2 separate regions of the Homo sapiens genome follow, and region 1 is linked to region 2. Evidence: fine-mapped expression QTL. A gene starts in region 2. The other region holds a variant in brackets. All regions are shown on one strand. Distances are from middle to middle. Region 1 holds the start of LINC02976 (long intergenic non-protein coding RNA 2976). Region 2 holds the start of GNMT (glycine N-methyltransferase).

Region 1 (8,320 bases), 20 kb after region 2:
TAAAGATCTATGGAAATGCCACCCAGCAGTCTCAAAGTAAGGAGAGGAGCCTGCCTCCTAGGACCTGCCCTTTCAAATGAATATGGAAGCCCTGATGTAGCACTCGTGAGATTTTACTGTCTGAGCATGTTTTGTTGTTGTTTGGTTTCAGACAGAGTCTTGCCTGTTGCCCAGGCTGGAGTGCAATGGCATGATCTCGGCTCACTGCAACCTCTGCCTCCTGGGTTCGAGTCATTCTTCTGCCTCAGCCTCCTGAATAGCTGGGATTACAGGCGTGAGCCACCACGCCTGGCTAATTTTTTGTATCTTTAGTAGAGACGGGGTTTCACCATATTGGCCAGGCTGGTCTCAAACTCCTGATCTCGTGATCCACCCACCTCGGGCTCCCAAAGTGCTGGGATTACAGGCGTGAGCCACCGTGCCTGGTCATCTGTGGTTCTTTTAATCATTGAACTGGAACAAACTGGCCTTGTGGTCTGTCCATCAGCCCTCGTGGTTCTAGTTGATGGAAGTCTTCAACAGAGATGGAGCCATTCTGCTGTTTGTGTTTCTGAGGACAAGACATTGACCCACTGTAAATTCACTGAAGTCCTGCCCCATCTTAGGACAACACCCTGGGTTTATCTTGGTGAAGTGAGTTCTAGCTGCCTCCTCTTAAGGACCGTGAGAGATGTTTGCTAAGCATGCAGACTCCCAGGTCTCAACCCAGCAAGTCTGAGGCAAACCCAGACATCTGTATGTTTAACAAGTATTCTAGGTGACTCTCATGTCCAGGTGAGTTAAGTTTAGAATCTTGTTCTAATGAGGCTTCTGACAGGAAGACGGAAATCAGGTTAACTTGAGTGCAGGCAGTACCCTTACCTGATTATACTTGTGCCCTATAAATTTATATAAATAGAAAACTTTTAAAAACAGAGGTTCTTTTTATAATTTCACACTTTATTACGAGCAGGTTTTTTGTCTCATTTTGTTTTTTGAGACAGGGTCTCAGTCTGTTACTCAGGCTGGAGTGCAGTGATGTGATCAGCCTAAGTCTCCACACTTAAGTGGAGTGCAAATGGGAGACATCCTGGTTGTTTTGGTGTTTTTTTTGTTTTTATTCGCTTTTTAGAGATGAGGGTCTCACTGTGTTGCTCAGGCTGGACTGGAACTCCTGGGCTCAAGTGATCCTCTCAAGCCACCTCCCAAGTAGCTGGGACTACAGGCATGCACTGCACATGGCTTGTGTTTTGATTCAGAACAGGTAGAAATTCATCTATATGAATTTCTGTATATCAGGTAGATTAATTTCTGCCTGTTCTGAATCAAAACAAAAACAAGCCATGGATGGGAAGGGGTATAGGAAAGTGGGAGGCAACGCCCAAGTTCGGAAAGGCTTGTGTGGTGGGGAGAAGAAAAGAAAAACCTGGGCTGGGCGCTAAGCCACACACCTGTAATTCCAAAACTTTGGGAGGCCGAGGTGGGGGGATTGCTGGAGCCCAGAAGTGTGAGACCAGCCTGGGCAACACAGCAAAACCCCGTCTCTACCAAAAAAAAAAAAAAAGGGAAAGAAAAAAACCCGGAAAGCCAGGTTTCCTGCATTCTGCCTTTCTAGGCAGGGCCAGAGTAAGCTGCTGCTGGGTGGGCTGCGTGAAAGCTAGTGAGTATGCAACAAGCCTGGCCCTTGGGAAGCAGTAACCACAGGTCAAAGAGCAAAGCAGTGACAACACTGCCTGCCCTCAAGACTGGGCCAGGGCCTGGGATTGGGCCACTGGGCCAACACCTCAGTAAGGAGTTTTTTTTATTTTTTTTTGAGATGGAGTCTCCCTCTGTCGCCCAGGCTGACCTCAGGTGAACCGCCCATCTCAGCCTCCCAAAGTGCCGGGATTACAGCCGTGAGCCACCACACCTGGCTTGGGGGTTAGATCTTTACCTTGTCCTACTTTAAAAATCAATGAGGCCAGGCATGGTGGCTCACACGTGTAATCCCAGCACTTTGGGAGGCCGAGATGGGAGGATTGCTTGAGTCCAGGAGTTTGAGACCAGCCTGGCCAACATGTGGAGACCCTGTTGCTACAAATTTTTTTTTTTTTTTGGTTGCGGGGGATGGAGTCTCACTCTGTCACCCAGGCTGGAGTGCAGTGGTGCAATCTCGGCTCACTGCAACCTCCGCCTCTTGGTTTCAAGCAATTGTCCTGCCTCAGCCTCCCAAATAAGAGGCTGAAACCACCCCAGGCCCAAAAAATAAATTAAAAATTAAAAAAATTATTGGCCGGGTACAGTGGCTCATACCTATAATCCTAGCACTCTGAGAGGCCGAGGTGGGTGAATCATCTGAGGTGAGGAGTTCGAGACCAGCCTGGCCATCATGGTGAAACCCCGTCTCTATTAAAAATACAAAAATTAGCCAGACGTGGTTGTGTGTGGCTGTAATCCCAGCTACTCGGGAGGCTGAAGCAGGATAATCACTTGAACCCAGGAGGAAGAGGTTGCAGTGAGACAAGATTGTGCCAGTGCACTCCAGCCTGGGTGACAGAGTGAGACTCTTGCAAACAAATAAAAAAGTATTTAAATAATTTTTTCTTTTTTTAGACACATGGTCTCACTATGTTGCCTAGGCTAGTCTCGAACTCCTGGGTTCAAGCGATCCTCCAGCCTTGGTCTCCCAAAGTGCTAGGATTACAGGTGTGAGCCTCCACACCTGGTATACAAAAAATAAGATGTTTAAATTAGCCAGGTACAGTGGTGCATACCTATGGTCCCAACTATTCAGGAGGATCACTTGAGCCTGAGAGGTTGAGGCCTGCAGTGAGTCATGATCACGCCACTGCACTCCAGCCTGGGTGACAAAGGGAGATCCTGTTCCAAAAAAGAAAGGTAGGGGAAAGGGTTAGGCATGGTAGTTCCTGCCTGTAATCCCAGCACTTTGGGAGGCCAAGGCAGGTGGATCACTTGAGGTCAGGAGTTCGAGAACAGCCTGGCCAACATGGGGAAACCCCGTCTCTACTGAAAATACAAAAATTAGCTGGGTGTGGTGGCGGTTGCCTGTAATCCCAGCTACTTGGGAGGCTGAAGCAGAGAATCACTTGAACCCAGGAGGCGGAGGTTGCAGTGAGCTGAGATTGTGACACTGCACTCCAGCCTGGGCAACAGAGTGAGACTCTGTCTCAAAAAAAAAAAAAAAAAGACTCAAAACAAAACAAAAAACAAAAAAAAAATCAATGAAGCTGTGGGGACAGAAGTAAGCCAGGCCTTGAAGTGCTGTTAGTGATAGAATGGGGGAATCAGAGGGTGGCCACCAAATCCTAGACAGTTCAGGGGGCAGGAAACACATCCCTGCCCTGGGTACCAGCCCCTCCACCTCACCCCCAGCCATTTTCTATGCTCAGAACAAAGTCCAGGACAAGACCTGCATCTAGACTGTAATCTCACTGCTCACCAGCTCCTTTAACAGGGGGAACATCAGTCCTGGAGATGCAGAGGTGGAGGCTGGACCAAGACAGTATCATTTTCCCAGGACCTGGCGTCATCCTCAACAGCTTAAGGAGAGACAGATTCCATTCTGTTCCACTCTCTATGGCCTTGGCTGCCCTAACCTGGTAGAGGGGGAGAGGCTGGGACCAGGCTATGAGGGGGCCCCTCACTCCCAGTTCAGCCCCCAGAGCCGCTGCAATGGACGCAGGGAGGCTTCAGCAGTGTATCCCTCCTACCCACTGGGCCTAGCCTGGAAGTGTGAGGTAGAGTTGCAGTGTGGGTGCTCACGGGAGATCTGGTGCGGGCACAGCTCCCCCAGGACTTGCTGCCATTCTTTCCTTCCAATAAGCCACAGCTGCTTCCTATTCGCCTTTTAGGAATCTTGGTGGTGGTTAGGCCAGGCGCAGTGGCTCCCACCTGTAATCCCAACACTTTGGGAAGCCGAGGCAGATGGATCATGAGGTCAGGAGTTCAAAACTATCCTGGCCAAGATGGTGAAACCCCGTCTCTACTACAAATACAAAAAAATTAGCTGGGCGTGGTGGCAGGTGCCTGTAATCCCAGCTACTCGGGAGGCTAAGGCAGAGAATTGCTTGAACCCGGGAGGCAGACGATGCAGTGAGCCAAGATCACACCACTGCACTCCAGCCTGGGCAACAGAGTGAGATTCCGCCTCAAAAAAACAAAACAAAACAAAACAAAACAAAAAGAATCTTGGTGGTGGTGACAGGTTAAGGCCAAGAAACTAAACCAGTTCGATACAACTCACACTGTCAGTGCCAGGGGTTGGGGGAAGAGGCCCTGGCAGCTGTGGAGAGTGGAAGTACCATGGATTTGTAATCTGAACGCCAGTGTCTGCGTCCCAGCTATACCACTCCTTAACAGCAGGACCTTGACTCCAAGGTCACCTGACTCCAAGCATATCACTTGACTCTAGCCTGTTTTCTCCTCTACACAATGAGGTTAACAGCACACCTCACAAGAGTGTGGTAATAGTAAAAGTTAAAGCATACAATTTGAATACATACAATTGTCATCACTACTGTACCAATTGCCCCGATCCCTGCCTTCAGGACAAACTGGGAGGTGCCTGAGCTTCCCCACCCCTTCTCCCTAGAGGCCAGCCTCTCTGCTCCTCCCTTGGCCCTGAGGAACATGGTGTGACCAGATGGTGTTGGGAACCGGGTGTCCTCCCAACTGCACTCCAGGTACAACAGCTAGGAACCTCAGAGTGATCAAGTGTGGTCATCAGAAAACAAGGTTCAGGACCAACAGTCAAGGCCAGGTGGAAGTAGGAACAGGGGC[G/A]GGAGCTGGCCAGGTAAACACTGCATTTTACACAACAAATGGGAGGCCTTGGGAAGAGGAGCAGCAGGAGAGAGGGAGGGAGGGAACGGCAGCCAGGTGTCCAGGACACGAGGGAGCAGCGTAAGGTCAGTGCACTGCCCTGGGCCTCATCCTATGCCCATGCCTCCCCTCACCCCAAGACAACCCTGGGCCTTCCCAGCACTTGCTGCTCCCGAGAGTGGGTGGGTTTTAGCCTTCCCCTCCTCAGCCCCACGGGCTGGAAGGCGAGGGGCAGGAAAGAACAAGAGGCTCCAGGGCACCTCTGAGGGCTGCAGAGGACTCAGAAATCAGAACCAGAACATTTTTACTCTTTGGGCTCTGGGAAGGGCCAGGCAGAGTGCAAGGTGTCCACAGGAGGGGTAAGCAGAGAGGAGCTACAGGGGGCTGCAGTCCTAGTACCCTGTTGGGGAGGACTGAGGGATGGTGAGTTTGGTCTCCGGAGGGGGCTCCAGTCCTGGTGCCCAGTTCTGACACCTGCCCCTCCTGAGTTCACACTGGAGTCCTTGCAGTCCTGAAACCACAAGGCCTGCCTGAACCCTGGGTCAGGAGAGAAACACTTGGGGAGGGGAAAGGACGGCGTGGGCTACCCATGACGGCTCTGAGTTCTTCCTGGGGCTTGTGTCTTTCCTTGGCAGAAGAGGGCACAGCCAAGGCAAGGAGGGGCTGAAGGCTGCGGGGCCATCCCGGCCTGCCAGAGCCATGCCCCTGACTCCTCAGCTTCAAAATCAGGGGTCTCAGGACAGAGGATGCTGGGTGGGCTCAGAGCTCATCAGGGGGGCTGTGTGTGAGAGGGGATGCCTTCTGGATGCCCTCATCCTCCTCGGGGCTGGGGTCTCCCTCAAGGCCACCCAGCTCCTTCCTTTGTTTGCTGCTGCTACTCCTGCCGCCTGCTGCCTTGGCCCTGCTGCTCTTCTTCTTGGACTTCTTCCCTCCCAGGGCAGCTGTGTCTCCCTTCTTGCCGGACCACTGCTCTGCCAGGCAACCTAGGGTGTGGAGGAGAGAGACCCTCAACAGAAGTGCCTCAGGGCTGGGGTGCTGGGCAAGGAGCACTGAGCAGGGAGCCGTGGGAGTAGCAACTGGGACTGTGCTTGACATCAGCCTCCCTGCCTCCTGCCTCTCGCTGTGGCCACCAGGCCCCTCTGGGGGCATCTGACTTGTCTGCCCATCATTCTGCACCTGGTTTCAGTGACTCTTACTTCACCATGTCTTGCCAATCAAGCCTTTCAAGGGCAGAGATCCTACAATGCCCTCTGGTGCCCTCTGTTTCTCCTCCTACCCACCTCCCCCAAGGGAGAGCAAACAAATCATCCAGAGCCAGCCTGCCCTTGCTTCCCCAAACTCACTGGTGTCTTTTCCCTTCAGCACGTGGTTGGCGCAGAGGAATTCAGTCAGGTCTTCCTCCTGGTGGTTCCTGTACCAGTCCTCGATCACCTCCTCAAACTCTTCCACCAGCACATCACACTGTTAATCATAATACCTCATATTGGCAAAGCCCCAGCACCTGACTCGCTCCTAGAGGAGCTCAGCTAAGCCTCGCAACCCACTGCAAGGTAGGCAGTGGCAGCGGTTCACCTAAGGAAACTGAGGCCAGAGAGGTGAAATGACCTGACCAAAGCCACCCCGGCCTGGGTGGACTTCCTCAGAGCAGACCCAATCCCCACCAGCCCCTCACTGGGCACAGCAACCCTTCCAAGGGCTGAAGGGCCTGTACCTGCTTCTTGAGGTCAGCCACCTCTGCAGAAGTCTCGTTCCACAGCTCATAGGGGATGTCCATCACCACCTTGACCCCTTTGTGTACCAGGTTGTGTAATGTCTCAAAGGTCTCTGACATGCCCTGGAAGAAGCGACCAGATATGGCAGGCGGAGCTCCCTTCTCTCCCTCCCACCCTCGTCTCCCAGTGGTGGCTAAGAACCCAGCTATAAGACCAATGCTCAACGCCCTCTAAGGATCCTCATCCTTTTTTTTTTGAGAAGGAGTCTCACTCTGTCGCCCAGGTTGGAGCGTCTCAGCTCACTGCAACCTCTGCCTCCCAGGTTCAAGCGATTTTCCTGCTTCAGCCTCCCAAGCAGCTGGGACTACAAAGGCGTGCCACCATACCCGGCTAATTTTTGTAGAGTTGGGGTTTTGTCATGTTGGTCAGGCTGGTCTCGAACTCCTAGCATCAAGTTTTCCACTCACCTCAGCCTCCCAAAGTGCTGAGATTACAGGCGTGAGCCACCGCACCTGGCCTCATCCTTGACCTGACCTTCCTCTTCCCTCTTTTAGGCCTGCTTCCCACAACCCCTGCACATATACCCCCTGATCTGCCTCTGCACACCTCATCGCTTCAAAAAGACCTGCGGCTGCCCTCAGGCCCTTTGGCTTTATGCTTCTTTTCCAGGAAATAGGTTTGTCTTAGCTCTTTCCCCTCACTATGGCTGGAAACACTCCCATATCATCCAGACCTGCTGTTCCGTTCTTCCTGGGTTGTGTCTTTCCTCAGTGGGAAAAAGGCATAGCTGAGGCAGGTAGACCCTTTATTCTGTAAAAACTATCTCTGCTAGCTGCCTAGGTCTTATCCCCAGAGAAAACATACTATCCATTTCCTCTATTTTCCCAGAGATAACTCATACAAATACCAATATCTAAATATATCCTCCCCCCGCCTTTTTACACAAGCAGTGGTATAGCATACACACTATTTTGCACTTGCCCTTTTTACTTATACCTTGAAGGGCTGGGTGCAGTGGCTCATGCCTGTAATCCCAGCACTTTGAGAGGCCAAGGTGGGCTGATCACCTGAGGTCAGGAGTTCGAGACCCCCTGGCCAGCATGGTGAAACCCCGTTTCTACTAAAAAACACAAAAATTAGTCGGGCGTGGTGGTCGGTGCCTGTAATCCCAGCTACTCAGGAGGCTGAGGTGGGAGAATAGCTTCAATCTGGAAGGTGGAGGTTGCAATGAACTGAGATCGCACCACTGCGCTCCAGCTTGGGCAACAGAGTGTGAGACTCTGTCTCCAAAACAAACAAACACACAAAAACCTTGAAAATCAATTGAATTCAGTTCCTAAAGAGCCTCCCCATGCTTCGTTTCCAGCCGCATACTAGTCCACCAAACGGCTGGATCAACGTATTTAATCCCCTATTGGTAGAGTTAGATTGTTTCTCATTTTTTTCCTGCTATGAAAAATAATTCTTAAACACTTTTTATTAAAGCAAACACAGATTTATTACTGAGTGCAAAATTCATACAAATTTCTGCTGCTTGAGACTATTCCCTTAGGTATCCCAGGAGTTTATGAATGGTATCCTTTGCTAGAAGGAAACTTAGGTAGAAAAATGTGGGTGGCAACTATCTTACCCTGTGCCAGGCACTGAAGATGTAGAGAGTAAGAACTATGGGCCTTGTTGTAAGCAGCTCATTCTCCAGAGAGAAAAGCACTCGTACACATACTGAGTACATGGGCCATCACAAGGGCATCCCAGCGGGGTTGTGGGAGGTGCTGTGTGGACCCAGAGATGGGACTGGGCAGTCACTCCCA
Region 2 (8,320 bases):
GGAGGATCGCTTGAGCCCAGGAGTTTGAGGCCAGCCTGGGCAACACAGAGAGACCCCAACTCTAAAAAAAATGTTTAAGGGAAAAAAAAAACTAGTGGGAGACAAACCTAGTCCTGGATTCCAGAGGGAAGATCATTGACATCTAGGAGACCCTGAGCAGGAAGCCACCTTCGCAGGGCTCTCCCCTGCCTGGGCATAGACCACAGCCTCCCCACCTTGTCATCTCCAGGGCTGGAGCCAGGTAGCTCAGCACTGATGCTCACCATGGAGGACTTGCTGCAGGCTGCCGCCCGGCTGCAACCCTCAGTCAGTGAGCAGGAGCTGCTCCGGTACAAGCGCATCCAGCGCAAGTTTGCTGCCTGCTAGGAGCCCCCCAGGGTCTGGGACCCCGCTCAGCATGGCTGCAGGTACCTTGATAGCCCACAGAGAGATCTGGGAAGGAAGGGCTCCTCCTCAGGCTGCTGCCAACCCACCTGGAGGCCACCTCCCTCCAGGAGATCCCAGGGTGCAAAGTGGCATTGAGACAGCAGCAACAGCTCAAGAGATATCTCCTGCCTACTTGCCCCTCCTTCCAGGCCGGCTCTAAGAGAAAGGCCCATCTACTCAGGAAGAGGGCCAGGGCCTTGGGTTCTGGGGATTGGGCCCTGAGAGGGCTAGTTCTGTGGCTGAAAATAAAGCATGTCCCGCCCCCTACTGGTGTTGTGGCATGAAAGGTTGGAGTGAGAAAGAGCAGGGTTGTGGGAGGAGTAAGCCCTGGGAGAGGGTGGGGGGGTGGGCAGCATGGGAGCCTGATCCTTCTGACATAAATAAACACAATGCATGCAGGAACTGAAAAAGACTATATTGTTTACCCTTCCGTCTGTGGAACCCACATCCCTGCACCCCAGCTGTAGTCTGCTCTAGAGGCTGGCCCTGGTGTGGGGCTGCTGGTCCCCATCTTCCAGACAGAGCCTAGCAGTGCCTGGGCAGAGGCTTGTGGGAGCTGAGGCCACACTCAGTCTGTCCTCTTGAGCACGTGGATGAAGTAGCAGGGAATGTAGGTTTGGCCTGGCTTGTAAGGCTTGAAGTCGCCCAGGACGCTGTGCTGGCACTTACCTCCGAAGGCTGCTTGGAGCAGCTCCGTGAAGGATGCCAGACAGTGTGGGTAGTAGGAGAGCCGGAACTTACTGTAACAGAGGCCCCAGCAACCATGAGGACTGGTGACCTCAGCTCCCCCAACTACCGCCTCACCCCCACTAAGCCAAGTGGTACCTCAAGCCAGGAGAGCCATCCTGGCCAGCCCCCGGCACCTGCACCGTATAGTCCAGGGTCACCATGTGGGCCTTGTTGTTCACTATCAGCACTGATGTTGTGACGTCCTTGGTCAAGTCACTCTGTAGGTGGTGGGGCAGCCGGCATTAGCCTCTGTAACCCACCTTGGGGCCACTGGACCCTCCCTCCACCCCACCCCCACCCCCACCCCCACCCCCACCCCAGAGGGCCCCACCTTATAGTAGATGTTCTTCCCTGGGGGTGCACAGCCTGTACTGAGGATGTGGTCGTAGTTGCGATGATCAATGACCAGTAGGCCCCCTGCCCGCACCATGCTCGCAATGTTTTTCAGCGCCAGCCGGTGCTCACTCTGGTCCCCTGAGCTCCAGGCACGGGCAGAAAGACTCCATCTGCTCAGGGCCCCCAGCACCAGTCTCCCTCCCATCTCTCCCCTCCCCAGGGGTGCCAGAGCCAAGGCAGAGAGTCTGCTTTGGCAGGAGAGCAGGTGCCAGATGTCTGTGGAAGGGGGCCTCAAGGCGGGGGCCATGCCCAAGGCCACACCCTCTCTTACCTTTGCAGTCTGGCAAGTGAGCGAAACTGTTTCCAAGGCAGATGACAGCATCAAAGCCACCCTCTGCTGACTGGGGCACATCTTTGTCCAGAGTCATCCAGTTGGCTTCTTCGATGACTAGGGGTCAGGAAGAGAAAGAGGAATCAGGGAGGCACGATGGTACCAGTAGCAGCCACCTCCACCAAGTGCAGTCCTGCCTGGGTTTCTTCTTAAGACACACAAGCTCCCCGTTCAGTTAGGGGGAGGAGAAAAGAGGGATCAAGGGAGAAGGAACCCTGGTTGGGAAGGAGGGCTCTGTGCTTATGGGTTTTTCTTTGAGGGGAGGGACAAGATGCCACAAACACAGTTAAAACCAGCTCTTCACACCCGGTGTCTCATTCTGGAGCTTAAGACTTGCTTTTCAGAGAAATGACAGTAATTTTTCTGTCTCCCCGAGGAAAACACAACACTCCACCCCCGCCCCCACTTAAAGGAGCCCCAGGCAGAATGAACAGTGTTCCTGGTGACTGGGCTGGGGGAGCCTGGCTAGACCTGCATACCCCACTTGTCGAAGGCGGGCTCGTGCCGCCGGTTCCAGCGCTCCTTAAGTGCATACTTCAGCATCTTGTCACTGGCATCCACACTCGTCACACTGAAGCCCTCTTCCACCAGCATAATGGAGTCCACCCTGAGTACGGCCAGCGAGGAGAGGCAGAGAGAGGCAGTTAGGGGAGCCTGGGAGGGCCAGGAGGAGACCCTGCACTGGACACTTTTGTCTCTACTTCTCAGAGTCCGTTCCTCTGCCTCCTCTCCCCAGGCCCTCTCCACTGACCTCACAAATCTGTTTCCTGTCACCACAAGGCAACTTTTTTTTAAAAGCACCTCTTCAGAGCCAGGCACTCTACAAATATGCATTAATTCTCATGGCAATCCTGAGAGGTAAATAGTGTCATTCCCATTTGAGAGACAGACAAGCTGAGGCTCCTTGAAGTTAAAATACGTGTGCACAAAAGGCAGTAGAACATGGTGGTTTAGAGCACAGGACAAAGCCGGGCGCGGTGGCTCATGCCTGTAATCCCAGCACTTTGGGAGGCCGAGGTGGGCAGATCACAAGGTCAGGAGATCGAGACCATCCTGGCTAACACGGCGAAACCCCGTCTCTACTAAAAATACAAAATATTAGCTGGGCGTGGTGGCAGGCGCCTGTAGTCCCAGCTACTCGGGAGGCTGAGGCAGGAGAATGGCATGAACTCAGGAGGCGGAGCTTGCAGTGAGCCGAGATGGAGCCACTGCACTCCAGCCTGGGCGACAGAGCACGACTTCATCTCAAAAAAAAAAAAAAAAAAAAAGAGAAAAATAGAGCACAGGACAGATCTTAACCAACCCGGGCCTGTTAGCTCCTTTTCACTGGATGATGTATGAGGGAATTTTACTTTGCTGAGGCCTTACTTCCCCAGTAGTAAATGAGAGAATATCACTGCTTAACTTCATGGGGCTTTGTGAGGGTTTGAAAAAGTGATGTATCAAAAGCTCCTGGCACTGGGCTTGGCAGGTGCAAATGTTGAGCAATGTTAACTGTTAACACTGCCCAAGGCCATCACAGGAGGAATATTTGCAATCTGTCCGTGGCTCTGGCTCCAAAGCCTCAGGGACGCTCACTTTTTCTGCCCACACCCTCACTCACACTCAGTCTCCCTTCTCCGGGGCCTCTCCCTGCGAACCGCTACCTGGACCCCTAGCCTCACGGGGCACTCGCAGTGCCTGTTCTGCCGGGCAGGTACCTGCTCCTGGCCCTGGTGTCCCACCCGTTCCAGGATTGGCAAAGGCCGCCCTGACGTGCCCGGCCCTGTGGTTCTGCGGCCGCGCAGTACAGGCTGAGACAGACCCCGATCTCATGCAACGCCCCCGGCCCCGGCCTGGGCTCACCCAGTGCCACAGGCTACGTCGAGCACCCGCTGGCAGCCGTGCTGGCGCAGCAGCCCAAGCAGCCATGCCTTGTACTCGGCGGTGCGGCTGCGGGTGTCTCCGATATACAGCTGCCACACGCGCGCCGCCTCCCCGTCCGCGTACTGGTCCGGGAGCCCTTCGGCCGCCACCCCCAGGGAGCGGGTCCGGTACACGCTGTCCACCATCCTGCGCCGCGCCTGGCTCCGCAGCCACCCGCTCCGCACTTAAAGCATAAGCACTGCTGGCAGCCGACAGCCCCACCTGGCCAATAGCAGGTGAGCGCGCGGACACGCCCCTGCCGGGCTTTGGGCCGGGCGCCCGAGTCTGTCCAGCTGCAGGGAGGGCGCTGCCTCGCAATCCTGGGCTAGGTCCTTTTAGCCAGCCTGCGGACCCAGCCCTCTGTGCAATCCCACGGCGGGAGAGGACCCTCGGAGCCCTCTGCCCACTTAACCCGGGTCTCGAGGAGAAGGCGAGAGGGGTCAGGAGAGGCGGGAGCAATGAGATTGCCACTCCATCCCCTGAGATCCGCAGAGCTGAGCGCCAGGCGGGCAGGACTGGACCGTTCCCAGCGAAGGAAGGCATCAGCATATCTAAACAAAGATTGTGCCACCGAAGTGTGTAGGTATAGTCAGCCGGTGCAGGGAAGACAGGGGGAGTCTCTGGAGGTAAAGCTGGTCTGTCCACCGAATCCAGGGGCGGAGCCCGGCTGGAATACGGTAACACGGTAACACGGTGAAACCTGGCTAACACGTCTCTACTAAAAATAAAGAAAGATTAGCTGGGACATGGTGACACGCGCCTGTAGTCCTAGCTACTCCGGAGGCTGAGCCAGGAGAATCGCTTGAACCCGGGAAGGCGGAAGTTGCAGTGAGCCGAGTGCACCACTGCACTCCAGCCTGGGCAACAGAGCAAGACTCCGTCTCAAAAAACAAAAAGCAAAAAACAAACAAAACCCTCTGCTTTCACAGGAAGCAGGAGAATAGGGTCTAGAGACAGGGAACATAAGGCCAATTCACACTTCAGTTATAACGGGAAATATCCTCTCCATAGGGCGTATGCCCGCCATTAATAACTTTGTAACTGTAACTTTACTTCATCCTCTTCATTTACATAGGGTGTACCCCAAGTAGAGGGTATTTAAACTCACAAAATGTAACAGGGCCTTTGAGCCCCTATGCTCATGCTCGCTCCCACACTGTGGAGTGTACTTTCATTTTCAATAAAATCCTTCATTCCTTTCTTGCTTTGTTTGTGCATTTTGTCCAATTGTTTGTTCAAGATGCCAAGAACCTGGACATCCTCTACCGTTAACATATTTTGGCGAGCCAGCCAGCAGAAAGAGGTAAGCCCAAAGTTTGGGATTCATTTTTCTCCCTTTCCTTTCTGCTCAATTACAGGGCCGCTCTCGCGCTTCTCTCTCTCTCTCTCTCTCTCTCTCTCTCTCTGCCTCTCTCCTCCTTCCTTTCCAACTTGGGACCCTTGGTGGGCAGCGCCTAAACATGGAAGCAACTGCAGGGTTTTTTTTTGTTTTTGTTTTTGTTTTGAGACACAGTCTCGCTCTGTCGCCAGGCTGGAGTGCCGTGGTGCAATCTCAGCTCACTGCAATCTCCGCCTCCCAGATTCAAGCAATTCTCCTGCCTCAGCCTCCTGAGTAGCTGGTATTACAGGCGCTCACCACCACGCCCGGCTAATTTTTGTATTTTTAGAAGAGGCAGGGTTTCACCATGTTGGTCAGGCTGGTCTCAAACTCCTGACCTCGTGATCCACTGGCGTCGGCCTCCCAAAGTGCTGGGATTATAGGTGTGAGCCACAGCGCCCGGTCTGTGCTACTCTTCTAAGCAGGGGGCCTGGTTAACGGGTGATGCTCTCCTTTGGTACTGTTTGGCCCCAGTGCTCCTTGGAGCCTGGGGAGGTTTAGCCTTTAAAAATCAAACTGTCCAGCACTTTAGGAAGCCAAGACAGGTGGATCACGTGGTCAGGAGTTCAAGATCAGCCTGGCCAAGATGCTAAAACCCTGTCTCTACTAAAAATACAAAAATTAGCCAGGCATGGTGGCACGTGCCTGTAATCCCAGCTACTTGGGAGGCTAAGCCAGGAGAATCGCTTGAACCCGGGTGGCAGAGGTTGCAGTGAGCCAAGATTGCGCCACTGCACTCCAGCCTGGGCGACAGAGCAAGACTCCGTCTCAAAACAAAAATCAATCAATCAATCAAACTACTTTGGCCGGGCACGGTGGCTCACACCTATAATCCCAACACTTTGGGAGGCTGAGGCAGGCAGATCAACTGAGGTTGAGAGTTCAAGACTAGCCTGACCAACATGGAGAAGCCCCGTCTCTACTAAAAATACAAAATTAGCCGGGCATGGTGGTGCATGCCTGTAATCCCAGCTACTTGGGAGGCTGAGGCAGGAGAATCGCTTGAATCTGGGAGGCGGAGGTTGCGATGAGCCAAGATTGCGCTATTGCACTCCAGCCTGGGCAACAAGAGAGAAACTCTGTCTCAAAAAATAAATAAATATAAATAAAAATAAAACTGCCATGGAGACTGCTTTACCCAAAATTTTGGTTCACAGCCTTCCCTGCATTATCCATTAGGGCAAAGTAAAACCTTCAAGCTTGTACTGCCATCTCATGGCTAACGTTCCAGGTCATCGTTTATGTGTGCATATACATGTCTAGATGTATTTACTTATATGTACACTTACTGCTATATGTTGTGTCTACCAAATTGACTTATAAGTAAAAGAGGGCTCCGCCAGGCGCAGTGGCTCACGCCTGTAATCCCAATACTTGGGGAGGCTGAGGTGGATCATGAGCTCAGGAATTCGAGACCAGCCTGACCAACATGGCGAAACCCTGTCTCTACTAAAAATACAAAAATTAGCCAGGCGTGGTGGTGGGCACCTGTAATCCCAACTACTTGGGAGACTGAGGCAGGAGAATTGCTTGAACTCAGGAGGTGGAGGTTGCAGTGAGCTGAGGTCGTGCCATTGCACTCCAGCCTGGGCAACAGAGCGAGACTCCTGTCTCAAAAAAAAAAAAAAAAAAAAAAGAGGGCTTAAGTAATTAAGTAAATACGTCTAAGCAATTTTCAAGTCCACTTAAGTATAACTTTACTAAACTAGCCAGCTTTAAAATTATTGGGGGAATAAAAATAAAAAGGCCTTCAGATTTGTCAGCATAGGTTTTGTCTAAATTTTATGTTTGTCTTTGCTAGATATTTTAAAATGTCAGTGTTAATTCAAGCTGAGAGCTTGGGGAGAGCCTGCCTCCATTGAGATAAATGCATATCTGATTGCTTCCTTTGGAGAGACTAATCAGAAACTCAAAAGAACGCAACCCTTTGTCTCCCACCTGTGATCTGAAAGCCCCCAAGCCTCCTCACCTCCAGTTGTCCCATCTTTCTGGACCAAAACAATGTTTGTTTTACATATGGTTTAGTTTTTGTTTTTTCAGATGGAGTCTCCCTCTGTCGCCCAGGCTGGAATGAGTGGTGCCATCTCGGCTCACTGCAACCTCCGCCTCCTGGGTTCAAGTTGCCAGAAATGCTTGTTCCCTGGAGGCTGGGTGCGGTGGCTCATGCCTGTAATCCCAGCACTTTGGGAGGTCGAGGTAGGCAGAACACCTGAGGTAGGGAGTTCAAGACCAGCCTGACCAACATGGAGAAACCCCGTCTCTACTAAAAATGCAAAAAATTAGCTGGGCGTGGTGGCGCCTGCCTGTAATCCTAGCAAATCAGGAGGCTGAGGCAGGAGAATCGCTTGAACCTGCGAGGGGGAGGTTGCGGTGAACCGAGATCACACCATTGCACTCCAGCCTGGGCAACAAGAATGAAACTCCGTTTCAAAAAAAAAATTGGCCGGGCACAGTGGCTCACGCCTGTAATCCCAACACTTTGGGAGGCCGAAGCGGGCAGATCACGAGGTCAGGAGATTGAGACCATTCTGGCTAACGCGGTGAAACCCCGTCTCTAATAAGAATACAAAAAAAAAAATTTATCTGGGTGTGGTGGCACGCGCCTGATATCCCAGCTACTCAGGAGGCTGAGGCAGGAGAATGGTGTGAACTCGGGAGGCAGAGCTTGCACTGAGCCGAGATCGCGCCACTGCACTCCAGCCTGGGTGACAGAGCGAGACTCCATCTCAAAAAAATAAATAAATAAATTTTTTAAAAAATTAAAAAAGACTTTTCGCCATCTTTTGTCTTTCTGTGGAGCTGTCGCCATGAAGGTCGAGCTGTGCAGTTTTAGCGGGTACAAGATCTACCCCGGACACGGGAGGCGCTACGCCAGGACCGACGGGAAGGTTTTCCAGTTTCTTAATGCGAAATGCGAGTTGGCGTTCCTTTCCAAGAGGAATCCTCGGCAGATAAACTGGACTGTCCTCTACAGAAGGAAGCACAAAAAGGGGCAGTCGGAAGAAATTCAAAAGAAAAGAACCCGCCGAGCAGTCAAATTCCAGAGGGCCATTACTGGTGCATCTCTTGCTGATATAACGGCCAAGAGGAATCAGAAACCTGAAGTTAGAAAGACTCGACGAGAACAAGCTATCAGGGCTGCTAAGGAAGCAAAA

What was found. PIP is the estimated chance that this variant, and not a neighbour inherited with it, causes the effect.
Region 1: its variant is fine-mapped to the expression of GNMT in pancreas (GTEx, PIP 0.95).

The regions. Positions count from the first base shown.
Region 1 is chr6:42,936,028-42,944,347 of GRCh38, reverse strand. CNPY3 (canopy FGF signaling regulator 3) reads right to left here. Exons shown (of 6, transcript NM_006586.5): 4 at 6,509-6,631; 5 at 6,141-6,258; 6 at 5,054-5,780. The coding sequence ends at 5,557. The region is part of intron 1 of CNPY3-GNMT (CNPY3-GNMT readthrough); the gene reads right to left. It overlaps LINC02976 (long intergenic non-protein coding RNA 2976), which reads right to left and starts at 3,855. Exons shown (of 5, transcript NR_186646.1): 1 at 3,742-3,855; 2 at 3,419-3,575; 3 at 2,733-2,838; 4 at 378-550. RefSeq lists an enhancer at 5,242-5,744. The variant G/A (reference allele first, on the strand shown) is at 4,759.
Region 2 is chr6:42,956,381-42,964,700 of GRCh38, reverse strand. GNMT (glycine N-methyltransferase) reads right to left here and starts at 3,947. Exons shown (of 6, transcript NM_018960.6): 1 at 3,728-3,947; 2 at 2,362-2,489; 3 at 1,823-1,939; 4 at 1,487-1,629; 5 at 1,252-1,373; 6 at 821-1,166. The coding sequence starts at 3,933. The coding sequence ends at 995. CNPY3-GNMT (CNPY3-GNMT readthrough) reads right to left here. Exons shown (of 5, transcript NR_134892.2): 2 at 2,362-2,489; 3 at 1,823-1,939; 4 at 1,252-1,373; 5 at 821-1,166. It overlaps PEX6 (peroxisomal biogenesis factor 6), which reads left to right. Exons shown (of 17, transcript NM_000287.4): 17 at 230-836. The coding sequence ends at 366. It also overlaps the pseudogene RPL24P4. RefSeq lists enhancers at 3,499-3,548, 3,727-4,228.